Regions from separate parts of the Homo sapiens genome. Here region 2 is linked to region 1. A link means that fine-mapping ties the variant in region 1 to the expression of a gene that starts in the linked region. Tissue or cell type: lung. Region 1 holds a variant in brackets; the other region holds the start of a gene. All regions are shown on one strand. Distances are between the middles of the regions.

Region 1 (8,201 bases):
CTCCAGGGAAAGGAAAGGGAGCCACAGGTTAAACTGATCATCAGTGGTCAGTGATTTAACCAGTCATGCCTACATTATGAAGCTTCCATAAAAACCCAAAAGGACTGGGTTCATCAAACTTCCAGATAGCTGAACACTGGAGGTTCCTGTAGGATGAGCCCCTTCCTATATAACCTTGTCCTATGCATTTCTTCACCTGCATCCTTTGTAATATCCTTTATTACTACAAACGTGTTTCCCTAAGTTCTGTGAGCTGCCCTAGCAAATTAATTGAACGCAAGGAGGGGGTCATAGGAACCCCGATTTATAGCTAGTCAGAAGCACAAGTAAAACAACCTGGGGTTTGCAACTGGCATTGGAAGTGGGGAGCAATTTTGTAGGGCTGAGCCCTCAACCTGTGGGATCTTATGCTGTCTCCAGGTAGATAGTGTCAGAATTGGGTTGCCCTAGAGGTCACCCACCTGGTATTCACTGGGTTGCCCTAGAGGTCACCCACCTGGTATTCACTGAAGAACTTATTGCTTGCCTGGTGTGTGTGTGTGTGTGTGTGTGTGTGTGTGTGTGTGTGTAGATCCCCACACATCTGGTCTTAGAACTGTTTTGTGTTGTGTGAGTGGAGTAGGAGAAACAGTTTGTTTTTCCTCTTTGTCACCTGAGTGTGTTATCAGGGACTGGATTGTGAGAATCCAGAGTGTGAGACCAGGGTATATCAATGTGTGAGAGAAATAGATGTGCCTGTGTGAAAGATGAACAAGTATGAGGCTCCCTGGAGTCTGAGAAAGATCATGTGTGTGTCTGAGTAAAAGCAAGAGACTAGACTGAGAGTTCAGTGATTGGGAGAGACTGGGGTATGTTGGTGTGAGTGTGTGAGAGACCAATGGGTATGTGAGAGACTAGAGTATGTCTCTGTCTGGACTGGTAGGTTGTGAGAGGGTGTATCACAGTATGAAAAAGATTGGAGTGAGAGTGACCAGTATGTATTTTGTGTGCATGAGATAAAGCAGTTGGAATATGAGAGATCAGAGTGTGTTTGTGTATCTGTGTGAGACACTGGAGCATTTGAGTAACTGAGGCCTCTTTGAAAGATACCATTGAATGTGTATGTATGAGAGACCATCATGTTTATATGTGTGAAAGAGGGAGAGAAAGACTAGTGATGTGGTTGTGTGAGAGACCAAAATGGGTGAGAAAGAAACTATGTGAACCATGGTGTGTTATCCAAAAGGCTTTACAAATATAACCTCTGTGAGGTTGTGAAGCATGCATGTGTGAGTGAGACAGAGATAAGGGACAGTGAGCTGTGTGTGTGAGAGAAGTAAGATTGGGGGTATGTGTGAAGGTGTTGGTGAATCACCACGTGTGCTTATATTCATGTCCTCAGGCAATGGAAATGTGACTGTGTATATGTGCTTGTTTTGGGGTGCTTGTGATTGTGTCCTCCGTGTGACCATGAAACCTGTGTTAGTGTTTGTATGTCACCCTGTATACCCATAATTGTGGCCCTGTATGACTGCTGTGTATGGAGAGACTACTTGGAAGATTGATAGGATTGGATTCTTTATGAGTGTGGCTGTTTGGAATTGTGTGTTGCCGGGATAGGAAATGTGGAATAGAATTCCTGTCCCCAGTCCAAGGGTTTCAGTAAGAAGCAAAGCTGGGGTGACTGAAGCTCCTAACTGAAGCAGGAGACACCCTCACTTCTGTGTGACAGGAGGGTAATTAAGGGGCTGGGACAGAGGTGAGAGTGAAAGTGGCAGAATTGAGTGCTAAAGGTTCCATCGTTTCAGGGTGAGGAAAGTGAAACAGTGCCGGGGGGTGGGTCAGGGATGCAGTGGTGGGGATTGAGTGAAGAAGGAGGATAACCCTGGCCTCTGGTGGCATTTGGGAGTCAGATTTTCCTTTTTCTTTTGTTTTTTTTTTTTTCCCAAAAACCCCATCCATCTGGCCCAGAAAGGAGCCAGATTTTCAAACAGTAGACTTTCAAAGCATGAAGCAGAGACCCAAGAAGAGAATGACTCCACCTTTACCTGTAAAATGGAGGAAATGACTATTTTATAGGATTATTTGAAAAATAAAGTGAGATAATCTAATCTATGCAGAGTACCTAATGCATCTGAATGGGAAGGTAGCTCTTTGAAAAAGATTAAATTTAGGACCTCAAGCATGAAAAAAAAAAACCGTTATGAGTTTTAGCCCTTCAGTGGCCATAGGTTGCTCATACCCAGTTATGGGATCAACCAAAGCTGGGAAGAAGAAGACAGTTTTAGGCTAGTGATTCTGGGAGTGCAGCATCTCTGGCCTCATCTCTCTCTAACCTTTCCCTTCCTTCAGCCTTGCCCTCCCAAGACACTGTTCTTCAAGAGAAAGACCAGAAGAGAAGGCAAAAATGAATGTTGAAGTAGTAAAAGTCATGCCCCAGGTTAGTGGATATTTTCTTTCTCTTCATGAAAGGCAGTCTTGCTGTTTAGGACTTTTTGTAATGCTTCTTTTCTTTTGAAAATTCCCTGATTAACAGTCCAGGAGCCTAGTTCCCACTTCTCTCAGGGGCCACTGTCTTTAACTCTAATTACCTAATGAGTGAGTAATAGCTTAGTATAAAAAGTCATGGAGGTCCCTCTGAGATTCCTCTTCCCACCTTGTGTACATTTTAAATTTAGTGTTGACTCTTGTGAAAAGACTTGATTTATGTTGTGTGGAATATACATGTGGATATGTTAGTACTAGTGAGTTGGGCTCCAGGTTAAATGTGCATGCAGTGCGTTTCCTATATATAGAATGCATTAGGAATTATTCCTCTACCTGAAGTTTTCTCCAAATCTCTAATTATGTCCTTAAGATAAATTCTTTAAAAGTTTTTCTTTACATTTTAAGTATGAATTACCAACCTCATTCGTTCACCTGAAAAATCTTATTCTACTTAATTTTTGCAAATTTTATAAATTTAAATAGGTGAGAAGTTGACATGGTACAAAATTTACAAACAAATTTCACCCTTAACTCCCAGTTATTTTAAGAAGTTATTCTCACCATGTATCTCATTCAGAGCTATGTTATGCCTTTGCGTGTATACAAAAATACTTTCTTCCCTTCAAAGTTAATGATTTTTCGTGTCTTGTTGATGAAATTTTTGTCTACCTTTAGGTCCTATTTTTCTTCTAAGATTTGTTTTATCCTTCACAGTTAAGTTTCTGGTAAGCTTAGACTTGATTTTTGTGGTTTTCTATCATGGTAGGGCTGAAATTACATTAACTTTTTATGTTAAATTTAATTTACATTAGATTTTTACATTTAATTTACATTACATTTTTACATTACATGTATAATTTATAATAAGTGAGGCAGAGATTTATTTTTTCAAGTTGGCACAATGGCATTAATTGAATTATTCATCTCATTCTCACTAATTTGAAATGCCACCTATATCATGCACTAAATTCCTGTGTGTATTTGGTTCTGTTGCTGTACTACACTCAGTTTTACTTGAATTTCTGCTTTTAATCTTTTAATTTTTAAATATTATATTGCACATGTATAAGAAACAATGTATAAAAAGGAATCCTTAATTCTCCCACTGTGAAATTCCCCTCCTCACATTTTTTCTAAGTGGAAAATGTGTTTTCATGACA[T/C]ACATGAGTGTCAGATGTCCATAATTAATGCTTAATTAATTTATATGCTTCATATGGAAAGTTACGTTAAATTAATTTTGAAACACTGCTTTTTTTTCTTGTGCTGTCAGAGTTCATGAGATATTAAAAAACATTTACATGGATTCTGGGCATCTGTGTCTTCCTCAGCATTAAAACCATTTTGTGAGTTACCTAACATAATTTTCCAAAGATACAGACCTTTTAGTTTGTGTGCCTCATGTTGTCATTAAAATTCTACCTGAAGTCACAAGCACCATACACAACAGAATTAGTCCCCTCCAATTTGCCCTATAGAAGTAAGTTGGGATCTCCACAATACAACTTACTGTCTTTAGTTTTGATATTTAACCTCATACTCCTGAATAATGTTCCATACACTATTTCTTGATTATTTTAGTTTTAGAAATGATCCAGTAACCTACTACTATAGATGATAAAGATGCAGTCCATTAACCCCACCACCTGAAATGCACACACACATGCTTATTTGATAGACTGTAAACATTATTCACTATTTTTGTTTTAAGTCAGTGTTCAGCGTAGCTTGGTGTCTTTCATCAATTTGGAAATTTTTCAACCACAAATATTCTGAAACTTTCCTCTTTTTCTAAGATCACAATTATATACATAACTGACACTGTTTTATATGTCACTTATGCTTTAATTCTCTCTTTAATTCTCTAATCTCCTGTTAAGCCCATAATGGAATTCTTAACTTCTGTTATTGCATACTTAGTTCTAGAATTTCTATTTAATTGTTTTATGTAATTTTCTATTTTCTTCCTGAATTCACTACCTTTCCTTTTAGCTCCTTAAAAATATTATCATAATATTTTGGTATCCTTGTTGGATAATTCCATTATCTGGATCTCTTATGTGTTTCTATTTTGTGATGTTTTGAAAATTATCTTGTTTTTTGTCTTAAATGCCTCATTTTGGGTTTAGTGCTAGACTTTATATATTTTTAAAAGATAGTTTGAAGCTTTGATGTCCTCCTCTTGAGAAGGTCTACTTAAAAAATAAATTTTATTTTTTAGAATAGTTTTAGATTTGTAGAAAAATTGCAGAGATAGTGTAGAGAAATCTTATACCACACCAAGCTTCCCCTATTAATATTTTACATTAGTGTGGTACTTTTGTTAAAATTAATGAACCAATATTGATATGTTATTAGTAACTAAAGTCCGTGCTTAGTTTAGATTTTCTTTCATTGTTTTAACTTTTTAATTTTTTTTTTTTTTTTTTTTTTGAGACAGAGTTTCACTCTGTCACCCAGGCTGGAGTGCAGTGGCAGGATCATAGCACACTATAACCTGCCTCTCCAGTTCAAGCAATTCTCGTGCCTCGGCCACTCGAGTAGCTGGGATTATAGGCATGCACCACCATGCACAGCCAATTTTTGTATTTTTGGTAGAGGTGGGGTTTTGCCATGTTGTCCTTGCCATGCTATGTAGGCTGGTCTTGAGCTCCTGGCCTCAAGTGATCTACCGGCCTTGGCCTCCCAAAGTGCTGGGATTATAAGTGTAAGCCACTGCACCCGGCCAGGCTTTCTTAGGTTTTATCTAATGTTTTTTTTCTGTGCCAGGATTCTATCTAGGAAATTACATTACATTTAATAGTCATATTTCCTAAGACTCCTCTTAGCTGTGATAGTTTTTCATACTTTGCTTATCGATGACCTTGTCAGCTTTGAGGAATACTCAGTTATTTTGTAGAATGTCTCAAATCTGATGCTTTTTCATGATTAGACTAGGGTACTGTGTTTTGGGGAGGAAGACTGCAGAGGTAAAGTTCCTTTTTCATCACATCAAATCAGGGGTGCACACTGTAAACATGATTTATTACTGTTGATGTTAATAGATGTTAACTTAATTAACTTTGAGGTAGTGTTTGTCAGGTTTCTCTATAATAAGGTTACTCTTTTTTCCCTCACTTTTCCATACTGTACTGTTTGTAAGGAAGTCACTATGCACAACCTACACTCCAGAAGTGGGAAATTATGTTCTACCTCCTTAAGGGCAAACATAAATCATTTGAAAGATCTTCTAAATGAGATATTTGCCTATTTTCCTCATTTATTTATTTAGTCTTAATTTAGTCACTTACTCAGTATTAATCCTCCTGGAAATTTCATAAATTATCTGATACCTTGCAATAAATGGTTGTGTCCTTAAAAAGAAAAAAGAATTACAAGCTCTTCAGATGCTATCCATTGGGATTTACTTCATTGGTTATAGCATTATCAGTTAAAAAAAATCACTACATATACATGCATACATATATGTAAAGTTATTCTATAGATATTGGTAAAATTCTGGTAGTATATATACTAGATTACTAACCATAAGTACCAGGATCAAAAGCAGTTTTTTCTGTGGGAACAGCCAAAGCTCCTCTGTCCTTAATAGTCAGCAAAATTATCCTAAATATTGGAAAGAATGTGAACACCTTTTGCTTGCATTGAGGAATACATCTCATTTTATAAGAATATGTGAAATGATGGTTCTTAGTTCTCAACTCACTAGAAGGTGAAAACTAGAATTCAGTAAAACTGTGAGTACACAGAGAAATGTAAACAATTTTGTAATTCTTTTATATGAAAAATATATTAAACATTTTCCTAAAGGTATGTATATCTTCTAAAGTCCCGTACATTGAATATCTGTTTAAAATGTGCTTTTAAACACTAATCTTCAGAACAAAGACATGATACAGAGATTACTGTTTAAAGCGAATTAAAATGTGCTCATAACCTTGTCTTTAGTTATATTTTTGATAACTTTGCAAATCAGGCACTAAGATTAAGAAGATATTCATTTTCAACGGAAGTAAATCTGAAGGTGAAAAATGCCCACAATAACTTTTAAAATTTCTTACAAGCTGCTGGTGATTATAACTGGTCATTAATTTTTCTCTAAGAATATTTAAAAGTTATAACTTCAATTTCATTTTGTTCTGCAACTGTGGGTTCTACCAACCGTGGGTGGAAAACACAGTATTCACTGATGCAGACCTAAGAAAATTGCATTCTTAAACATGTTTTTATTATTTAAGAAAAAAAAATCAGCTACATTAGTTCAATGCCTTTCTCCAGCCCCTGCCAATAAAACTTGGATCCCATGGAGTATCATTTGAAAAATATCAGTTTAGATATTCCTTTTATGCTTTTGAAGATTCAACACAGGTGTGTGTTCTCCCTTGAAGCCGTCTTCACTGCCTTGTAGTTATGCACCCATATTTCCCTATGTTCGGAATCGATTGGCCCCATTGTACCCAATGCAGTTAAACACTTCCATAAGTACTGTTTTGGCTTGGATCTTCCTATTTATGTTTTTTCTCTTCTATGAGTTATTTCTCACCTAAAGTAGAGACACTTTGGATCAACTCAGAGTTATCTTTGGACACGAGCATTGGTTGGTTAAGAATATATTTGTCACTTCAGGACTTAGTGACATTCAAGGATGTGGCAATAGATTTTTCCCAGGAAGAATGGCAATGGATGAACCCTGCTCAGAAGCGTTTATACAGGAGTATGATGTTGGAGAACTATCAGAGCCTGGTATCACTTGGTGAGGATCTTTTCCCTCCTGCATAATCTACCTTTAAGGAACTTTTTTGTCTATATATTATTAAATTTGCTTTTATTATATGTAGGTCAGAATGGAATTTGGGAATGGAATCTGAGAAACAGAGGATATTGAGGGACTGAAGAAAACTTGAGATTTAGAGTTAGTGAATTTGGAGAATATCAAATATTCCATGCATACACCCTTAAGGCAATTGGGAACACAAGACACAATGTGAATCTCACCAGTCTCCTCAGTTTCCTTGTTCTCTCTCTCCTACAGAATTACTATCACCACTAGACAACAACAAGGTTCACAAAGAATATATAGCTAGATTACTATAAATTCAGAATATCACTTTTAAAATCTGTATCTTTGTATTAAGTAACAAACTGAAGACACAAACTGAAAATGGCTTCAGATCACTTACTGTTAGGGAAATTCCTATGGACCTTTCTTCTAAGCACTGGGGCCACCCCATTGGCTAGATTAGCTTTCTGTTCTCCAGAAGCCCTTTTGATTATGCTTGTGGTTCATTGAGCTTCTTGAAACTAAATTTATATCTTAAACCAAATTTGGGAGATTTTTAGCCATTATTTCTTCAAATCTTTTTTTCTGTTCTTTTCTGTTTTGGACTTCAGTTACACCTATGTTAGATTGTTTGATATTGTGCCCTAGGTAACTAAGGATTGTTTCACTTTTAAAAATCTTTGTTCTGTTTTAATTTTAATTTTTCTCTCGCTCTCTTTTTTTTTTTTTTTTTGAGACAGTCTTGCTCTGTTGCCCAGGCTGGAGGGCAGTGGCGCAATCTTGGCCCACCACCTCCCAGGTTCAAGCAATTCTCCTGCCTTAGCCTCCCAAGTAGCTGGATTACAGGCACCCACCACCACACCCAGCTAATTTTTTTTTTTTTTTTTTTTTTGAAACGGAGTCTCGCTCTGTCGCCCAGGCTGGAGTGCAGTGGCACCATCTCGGCTCACTGCAAGCT
Region 2 (8,152 bases), 25 kb after region 1:
GATTTCTGGTTTGTTCTTGCAGTTGATCTGGAGCTAAAATTCATAATCGGAAATGGTATTGTATTTTGAATTTTAGTTACTGCCTGTTCATTGCTCTGAAGCAGTGTTTTTCTCCCCCCAACTTTTTTTCCTTTGTGCTTCAGATTGGATAATTGCCATCAATCTCTCTTCAAGTTCACTTAGTCTTACTTCTTTTGTTTCCATTCTGCTTTTAAGCCCAGTGAATTTTTTATTTCACATGCTGTGTATCTCAGTTTGATGAAGGCCAATTTATCACTCTACTGCTTTTAAAGTAGGCTCACAAAATCTAACCTAAGTGAGGTTTCACCTCTTGGTCTGAGGCTTTTTTTTTCCATTTTCCAATTAATAATAAGTTATGAGTAAATATTATTTATAATAAAAGACAAAGTCTATGCCACTGCTTTCCATTTTCAGGACTACCTATGGAAACCTTTGCTTTCCAGTCTGATGTTGACAGACCATTTTAACCAAAGCTGAATGAAAGTATTTGGGGTTTATAATAATTTTATTCCATCTTCTTATCCAAGTAAGGAAGCTCTCCACCATTCCTAGTTTGCTAAGGCTTTTTCTTTTTAAAATCACAGGTGTGAGCTGCATTTTATCTCAATCATCTATTGAGATGATTCCAGGAACTGTTTCATCCTTATTTATTAATAGTGGTGAATGATATTAACAGGCTCCCCACCGTGGCACTCCTGTGATAACTTCTTGGCAGTATGTACTGTTGGTTACCTGCTTGGCATCCAGTCTCCTTTTTGTCTTTTCTAACAAAACTCAACTTGTGCTCAGGTGTCTCTTCCACCCTCAGATGATTCATCGAAAGCTGACTGAATTCCCAGTGACAGGAGTAGACTGCCCTTCATCTTAGCCAGATATCACAAGGCTATTCCTGAGTGACTAAGGAAAGACTTATGTCCCATGATGTGGTAAGGCCCTATGGACATAAAACATAAAATACCTCTCCAGAGAAAAATATAGAATCAGAAATTATGATTTTATAGAAAATTCATATTTTTAATCAGTAGATTCCTTGGATAACTAAATTCATTGGACTAAGTATTATTTCCCAAATCAAATGTCATTATGTTGTACATTCTGTTTGTTAAACATCTGACACCTAAGCATATGACATCCTTTCTTTGTGCTATAAATTTTATTTTTGCCTATTGTGAGTATATATTACTCTTTATACTGAATTTTTAAAAAAATTAATAAAACAATTTATAAATATGGCAAATGTGAAGATTGGCAGTAGTTCATAAGTTGTATCAGCTTAATCTAAATGATTCAGCCGGGAGATTATTCATCTTTCTTGTTGGTTTCTGTTTTTCAAAAAGCTATAGTTTTGGGTTTATAAAAAAAGCACAGTGTAACTCCTGGTGGTTAAGATGAGATATTTTGTCAACTTCCTGCTGCAGGAGAACTTAATAATGAAATTATTCTTATAGCTCTCTAAAAATTTGGATATATTGAAATATTTTTCTTCATAATTCTTTAGTGTGCTTCTGTTGCTTCTCTGCTAAATATGAACAAGGACGCATATAGCCCCATATAATAGGAAAATAGGATATAGCAGTCATTTGAGGATAAGTGACTGCTACAATAAGATAAAAAAGGTATTGTCAACTCTGTCAATAAAGAAGATAGATTTTATTGCCTTCTCAAGTAACAGCTTCCCATGTAGGTAGGTAGCAGGTCAAGGCAAGAAGACAGCTTTGCTCCATGATGTCATCAAAGGACCTGGTTCCTTCTATGCCATTTCTCCATCAACTCAGGATGCTGTCTTTATCCACATAGGTGATGCCTCTACATTCCAGAACATGAAAGTATTCTGACATATCTTCCTTGGACATGACATATTTTTCTATGTATTGCTGGACTTTGTTTATTGTCACTTTAGGTAGGATTTTAATGTGTATGTTGTCCCTGAAGATTGGAATTCTTTCCCTACTTAAATTCTTTCCCTACTGTCCTTGTCCAGTTTTGGTATCAAGGGTGTCTAGTTTTAAATTCTCCAGTATAGTTTTATAGGATAAGGATTATTTATTGCTTTGGTATTCATGGAAAAGCCTGAGAACTTATTTAATGATTTTCCATTTCTTCTTGAGTCAGTTTTGGTACTTATAATTTTCTCTATGGTAAGCCCCTGCATATGTTTTAAATATATTGAGATAAGGTGATCACAGTATTTGCAAAATTCTAAAAATTTCTGTGATTATGTCCACTTTTTCATTTCTAATACCATTTCTTTGATTGTTTATTTCTCTTTTTTTCTGCTAAGCCATCTTTAGCATAACTTTCATCCTCATGATGCCAAGGTGGCTGTTTGCAGCGGACCCTATCCTTGTTGGACTGAACAAAGGATGACAAACATGGGAATAAAGACAAAGACAAAAGAGTATATTTGGAAGAAGAGGTCTGGGGGCTCCTTGCTTCCAGTGAACACAGGCCCTGAGCCTTTACAGCCCTTCGTATTTATTAGAGTGAATAGGGAGAAGGGGGGTGGTTGTCGGTCAGTAGCTTGATTTACAGCAGGCTTGCAAGACTGCATTCGTCAACCAATAGGCTCTAGATGTCCCATTAGATAACCTCAAGGAGCATGACACCAGGGAGTGATTGCCTTCAGCAAACCTTCTGGTGGCTGGAGCAGAAGCGACTTTGCCCACATTCTGCATTCATGATAAACAGTTTGCTGTTTGATCATATAGCCTCCAGTGGAATGTTGAGTTGGCCACGATCCCTTTGCCAGCTCTCTACAGCTGTTCTACCTGTTGACATCCTGTGTCATACCCAAGCAGGAAGAAGGTTGTGTGAGATGACAAAAGGCCAGAGTTACATGCCAGCTGTGTCTCTTTCCACACATCCACCAAACCCCCAGCAAATGTGTACTTAAAATTCATTGGTTACAGAGCCACTACTCCTTACAAGGAGACTGGGGAGGTGAGTATTATAAGCTGGGCAGATGGCCACTTGAAGAGCATCAATGTTCTGCTGTGGAAGGAGTGCAAAATAGACACCAGAGAGACCATTAGCAGTGTCTGCCACAGCTATTACATGGCTAGGTCCACCTGACTGAAACTAAGCCTTTTCTATGAGACTGAAGTGCTTTGAGAGAAATGCTGACCTTGTCCTTTCTGCAGCTTGCGGCTTTCAGTCACCCTTGGATTCAGAGATAGAAGTCATCTTAATTCCATCACTGAGGCCAGGAGACCTGAAAGAAATCAATTCAAGAGTAAGGAGACCAGGCGTGCAGTGTGACTGGGCGTGCAGAGGTCAGTGCATCTGTGATGACTGGTGTAACAGCATCACTGCCTGTGAGCCAGCAAGGCCCTTGGCTCCCAGGATGAAGCTCTCCAGTTCTGATAAGGCCCCTGGGGGAGAGACCGGTCCTAAACATGTTCAAGAATAAATCCATCAGCTAACTTCAGACCGTGATTCACACAGGAAGGGAACTTTAAGAGGTCGCCAGGGCTGGTATTTTTGAGACGTTAGGCAGCCCTCTCTGAGGCGATGACAAGTGAATGGCATAAAGGAGCCAGCCCAGACGAAAATTTGGGGTTAGACTATTTCGACCCAGGACGTGCAAATACATAGGTTACAAAATGGAAAATGGTATTTTGGAGGATGGGAGGCCCGTGTAGCCAGAGATAATGGGAGAAGGTGAGGGGGCACCCAAAACAATCCCACAAGCTCTCTACATCCCCCTTCCTAGCCCACACACATCACCCATCAGAGTGATCCTCCGGACTCCGGAGGCCCCCAAGATTGCCTTTCCCTTCCCGGTCGGCAGTGACGCTCCCGCAAGGAGCTGACGCCCAGGCCCTTAGCACCTGTCACAGCCAAGCACCCTTTTACTCCGGCCCTGCGGTCCCACCCCTCGCCGCAAGCCCCGCCTCACCCGGTCTGCCGCTGCGCCTGCGCGACTCCCAGAAGCCTTTGGGGGGTGGGTGTGTAGTCAGAGCGGCCTCTGCTTCCGGCCACACCCAGGCCCAGCGTTGGCCACCACTTATGCGGCGGCTGCGGTCCAGGGACAAGTGAGAGCGACCCGCAGAGGGCAGGACGGACGGGCGTTGCATAGGCCCGGGGCCAAACCGTATCTTGCAACCTGAGCTCCGAGGGCCGCCGCATCCGTCCCTGCTTGGGACTACGCTTCCCAGCGGGCATTGCGCCGAGGCCACGCCCGGTTCCGGCGGCGCTGCCTGCGCACTGGAAGTGGGAAGCGCCGGGCTTCTCTAGGCTGAGGGGCGGGGCGGGGCGGGGCGGGGCGGGGCGGGGCGGGGCGGGGCGGGGCGGGGCGGGGCGGGGCAGCGGGGAGGGGTGGGGAGGGGCGGGGCGCGGCCGGGGGCGGGGCGGCTCCGCGGCGCGGCCCAGTGGATGCCGGGCCATGGGGGAGCGCGCGCGGGGCTGTTCGCTGGGCGTGGCGGGCGGGTGTGGCCAGGGGTGTGGGTCTGTGAGGGACCGGTCGGAAGGGCGTCGCGCGGCCTCGGGTGACATGCGGGGGGCGGCGAGCGCGAGTGTCCGCGAGCCGACGCCGCTCCCGGGTAGAGGCGCCCCCCGCACAAAGCCCCGGGCGGGCCGAGGCCCGACTGTAGGGACTCCAGCCACCTTGGCCCTCCCTGCCCGGGGAAGGCCGCGCTCAAGGAATGGCCTCGCATCCAAAGGCCAGCGAGGAGCGGCCCCTACGGGGCCTGGGCACAGAGGTGAGAGTGACAGGTGTTTGGGGCCGAGCGGACAGGGACGAATTCATCTCGGGATGAGATCTGGGAGGGGGTTGGGCTCTCGGGGACCAGTTGCTGGAGAACTGTGCCCCTGGTCTTTGAAGCTGGTGGAGTGGGAGAATCTGAAGATTTGGAAGCTCAACTGATTCAGAGCAGCAAGCCGCGGTAAAAGGGTGTTGACTTTCCCAGGGTGACTCTAACTAGACGCTTTTCCTGTTTTCGTGCTCCCAGGGAGGAAAAAAACCTATCTCCACGTTGTGGCAGTCCCTAGGCAGGGTAATGATCTGATCCCACCTTTTCATGCAGGAAGGGACGTTTCTAGGCTGGTGATTTGGGACTGTGGTGTAGACCTGGTCTCTAGCTACTCCTTTCTCTTTCAGCTCTGCCTTCCAGGGACACTGCTCTTCCCCAGGAGAGAAACAAGAAGCTGGAGGCTGTGGGGACAGGAATTGAACCTAAAGCCATGTCCCAGGTGAGTTGGCATTTCATCTCTTGTCTCTGAAATGCAGTCTTGCTTTTCGGGACTTAATGTTGCTTATTTTCTTGAAAGTTTTCAGTTTAAGAGACCTGTTTGGGCGCGGGTTTCTATTTCTTCACGTTCTAGTGAAGTGATGGGCTACGGGGAAAAGTTTAAACTGCCCGGGGCCTCGATGCCTGCTTCTTCTTCATCCCAATCAGCCTTCATTCTTGATTGATGAAATGATTCAGCCTCTCCCTTGTACCGCTTTTCTCAGAGGGACTCTGATGGAGGAATTGTGCCCCTTGAGGAACACGGCAGACTCTTCTGCTATACATGGTTTGTTTGGTGACCACTTTGTGCCAGCCACTGAGCAAACCAATAGCTAAGCCCTAGTCCCTGCTCTGGAGCTCACAGCCTGTTGACCCAATGTCAAGGAAACAAGCAAGATTCTAGAATGTGATCATCCTTGGGCCAAGTATTATGAGCGAGGACTACAAGGCGCTCCTGGCTTCCAGCCTCCTGTAGCGGAAGGGTAGGCCTATTTACCAAGGAGGTGATTTTTGAGCCTTGCCTTGAAGGGAGAGAAGATGTTTGGGAGGCACAGTAAAGAAAGACAACATTTTAGGGAGAGGAGGCGCAATATGAAAGGCTTTTCCACTTGATTTTGTGGCTTTAAAACATGCCAGTAAATAGTTGTGTTTGTTTCGGTTGGCTTCTCCTATAAATATCATAGCTAGCTCATTAATAGATGAACCATTTCACTTCCACTGAGGCCTCAAAAAATATATGTACAGATGAACCAGCTTCCAGTTGTCCTACCCAAACTGCTCTTGAGTGGGTTACTGTGATCTTCACATTACCAGATGCAGTGCTCAATTCTTAGTCTTTTTTGACTATCATTGGTATTTGAAATAGCTCAGAGGCTGGCAAACTTGTGCTGGATGAGGCCACAGCAGAAAATATGTTAGGCTTTGAAAGTCCTGCTGCATCTACTCCTTTCTGCTCTTATAGAGCTAAAGTAGCCAAAGACAATATGTAAATGAATGGATGGGCTGTGTTCCAGTAAAACTTCAGTTACAAAACAGGTGGCTACCTATCCCTCAAATAGCTCATCCCTGTCCTTCAATAGGCCCCCTTTTTTCCCTTGGCTACTGGGATCTCACACTCATCTGACTTTCATCTTCCTGACTGCTCAGTTTTTGCCACAGTTCTTACCTCCGTGACTTGAACAGAGTGTGCCTCAGCACTCTGCTCATGGCCCTTTCTTTTTTTGTCTGCATGCTGTCTCCTGGGGATAGTAGCCTGTTCCTTGTCTGTACAACCTACCCACATGGTGGCTCCTCCCAGATTCACATTGTGAGCCCAAACCTCTCCTCTGAGCCGCCGGCCTGTGTATCCTGCTCCACTCCTCTGCCTGAGTGTCTGATGGGTAACTCAAGACAGCCTGTCCAGACCCGAAGTCCTGAGAGTCTCCCATAAACCAGCTCCTCCCACAGTTTGAGTCTTAGTCAGTGGCCGTTTCATCCTCTCAGTTACTCAGTCCGGAAGCCTTGTCATGATTGGCTCATTTCTTGCCTTTTCCTTCCATATTTGGTCCTGATGCAAATCCTGTCAGTTCTATTTGCAAATTATGTGCAGAATCTGGCAGTTTTCATCACATCTATCACCAGCAGCAGGTCCAAGTCCTCCTTTTACTGTGGGCTTCTTGACTGTGCTTCTGTGACCTCCTGCTTCTGCTCACGCTCCCCACAGCCCCTTCCCGATGAGCAGCCAGAGGGGTCTATTCAAACATGTCACCTTGTGTCACGCTGTGCTCAGGACCCTCCAGTGGTTTCTCTGAATAAAAGCCAAAACTCTTCCTGTTACTGACCAGGCCCTACATGACCTGGCTCCTTGTTACCCCTGACATCTACATCACTCTCTTCTTTCTGAAAAATCGCCTTCTCATTTTCCTGCTCACCCTGTCTAGAATTTCAGAGCCTCCTACCTGTTCTTCACATCCCTCTTCCCTGCTTTGCTTTTTTCTTTTAGTACTTTTCTTTTGAGACAGAGTTTTGCTCTGTCACTCAGGCTGGAGTACAGTGGCGTGATCTCGGCTCACTGCAACCTCCGCCTCCTGAGTTGAAATGATTCTCCTTCCTCAGCCTCCCGAGTAGCCACCACACCTGGCTAATTTTTTTTTTTTTTTTTTTTTTTTTTTTTTTTAGAGACAGGGTTTCACCATGTTGGCCAGGCTGGTCTCGATTTCCTGACCTCAAGTGATCCGCCCACCTCAGCCTCCCAAAGTGCTGGGATTACAGCCATGAGCCACTGTGCCTGGCCCTCGTAGTACTTTTCAACATACTATATACAGAAATCCCACGTATACCAAAATTTGCACTTATTCATCAGCCATGTGGAGCCTGCAGATATGAGAAGTCAGCCCTCAGTGGACACAGGTTTTCCATACCACAAATAATCTTTTTTGAGACAAGGTCTCACTCTGTCACCCAGGCTGGAGTGCAGTGGTGCCATCACGGCTCACTGCAGCCTTGACCTCCCCAGGCTCAAGCAGTGCTCCCATCTCAGCCTCCGAAGTAGCTGGAATTACAGGCATGTGCCACCATGCCCAGCTAATTTTTGTATTTTTTGTAGAGATGGGGTTTTGCCATGTTTCCCAGGCTGGTCTCGAACTCCTGGCCTCAGGCAACCGCCCGCCTTGGGCTACCAAATTGCTGCGATTAGAGGTGTGATTCCCCGCGCCCAGACAATAATTGTATTTTCAGTCTGCATTTGGTTGAAAAAATTTGCATATAGGTGGACCCTTGCAGCCCAGATCCATGTTGTTCGAAGGTCAAATGTATTTTACTTAATTTATCTCAGTTTCTCTTGTCTCATTTCCTTACTTCATAGGCAAGGATTTGGGGCAGTTTTGCCTAATGTCTGATACAGAAAATATTTGGTGGATGAATGT

Evidence for each region. PIP is the estimated chance that this variant, and not a neighbour inherited with it, causes the effect.
Region 2: ZFP28 starts here. The variant in region 1 is fine-mapped to the expression of ZFP28 in lung (TOPMed, PIP above 0.99). The same link has a PIP of 0.9 or more in ovary, prostate, thyroid and tibial nerve.

The regions. Positions count from the first base shown.
Region 1 is chr19:56,509,186-56,517,386 of GRCh38, forward strand. It overlaps ZNF471 (zinc finger protein 471), which reads left to right. Exons shown (of 5, transcript NM_020813.4): 2 at 2,332-2,419; 3 at 7,090-7,216. The coding sequence starts at 2,387. Among named protein-coding and RNA genes, the nearest start is that of ZNF471, 5.4 kb to the left of the region's middle. The variant T/C (reference allele first, on the strand shown) is at 3,627.
Region 2 is chr19:56,534,506-56,542,657 of GRCh38, forward strand. ZFP28 (ZFP28 zinc finger protein) reads left to right here and starts at 4,443. Exons shown (of 8, transcript NM_020828.2): 1 at 4,443-4,721; 2 at 5,120-5,211. The coding sequence starts at 4,514. It overlaps ZFP28-DT (ZFP28 divergent transcript), which reads right to left and starts at 4,229. Exons shown (of 3, transcript NR_183967.1): 1 at 3,920-4,229; 2 at 3,146-3,232; 3 at 1,651-1,827.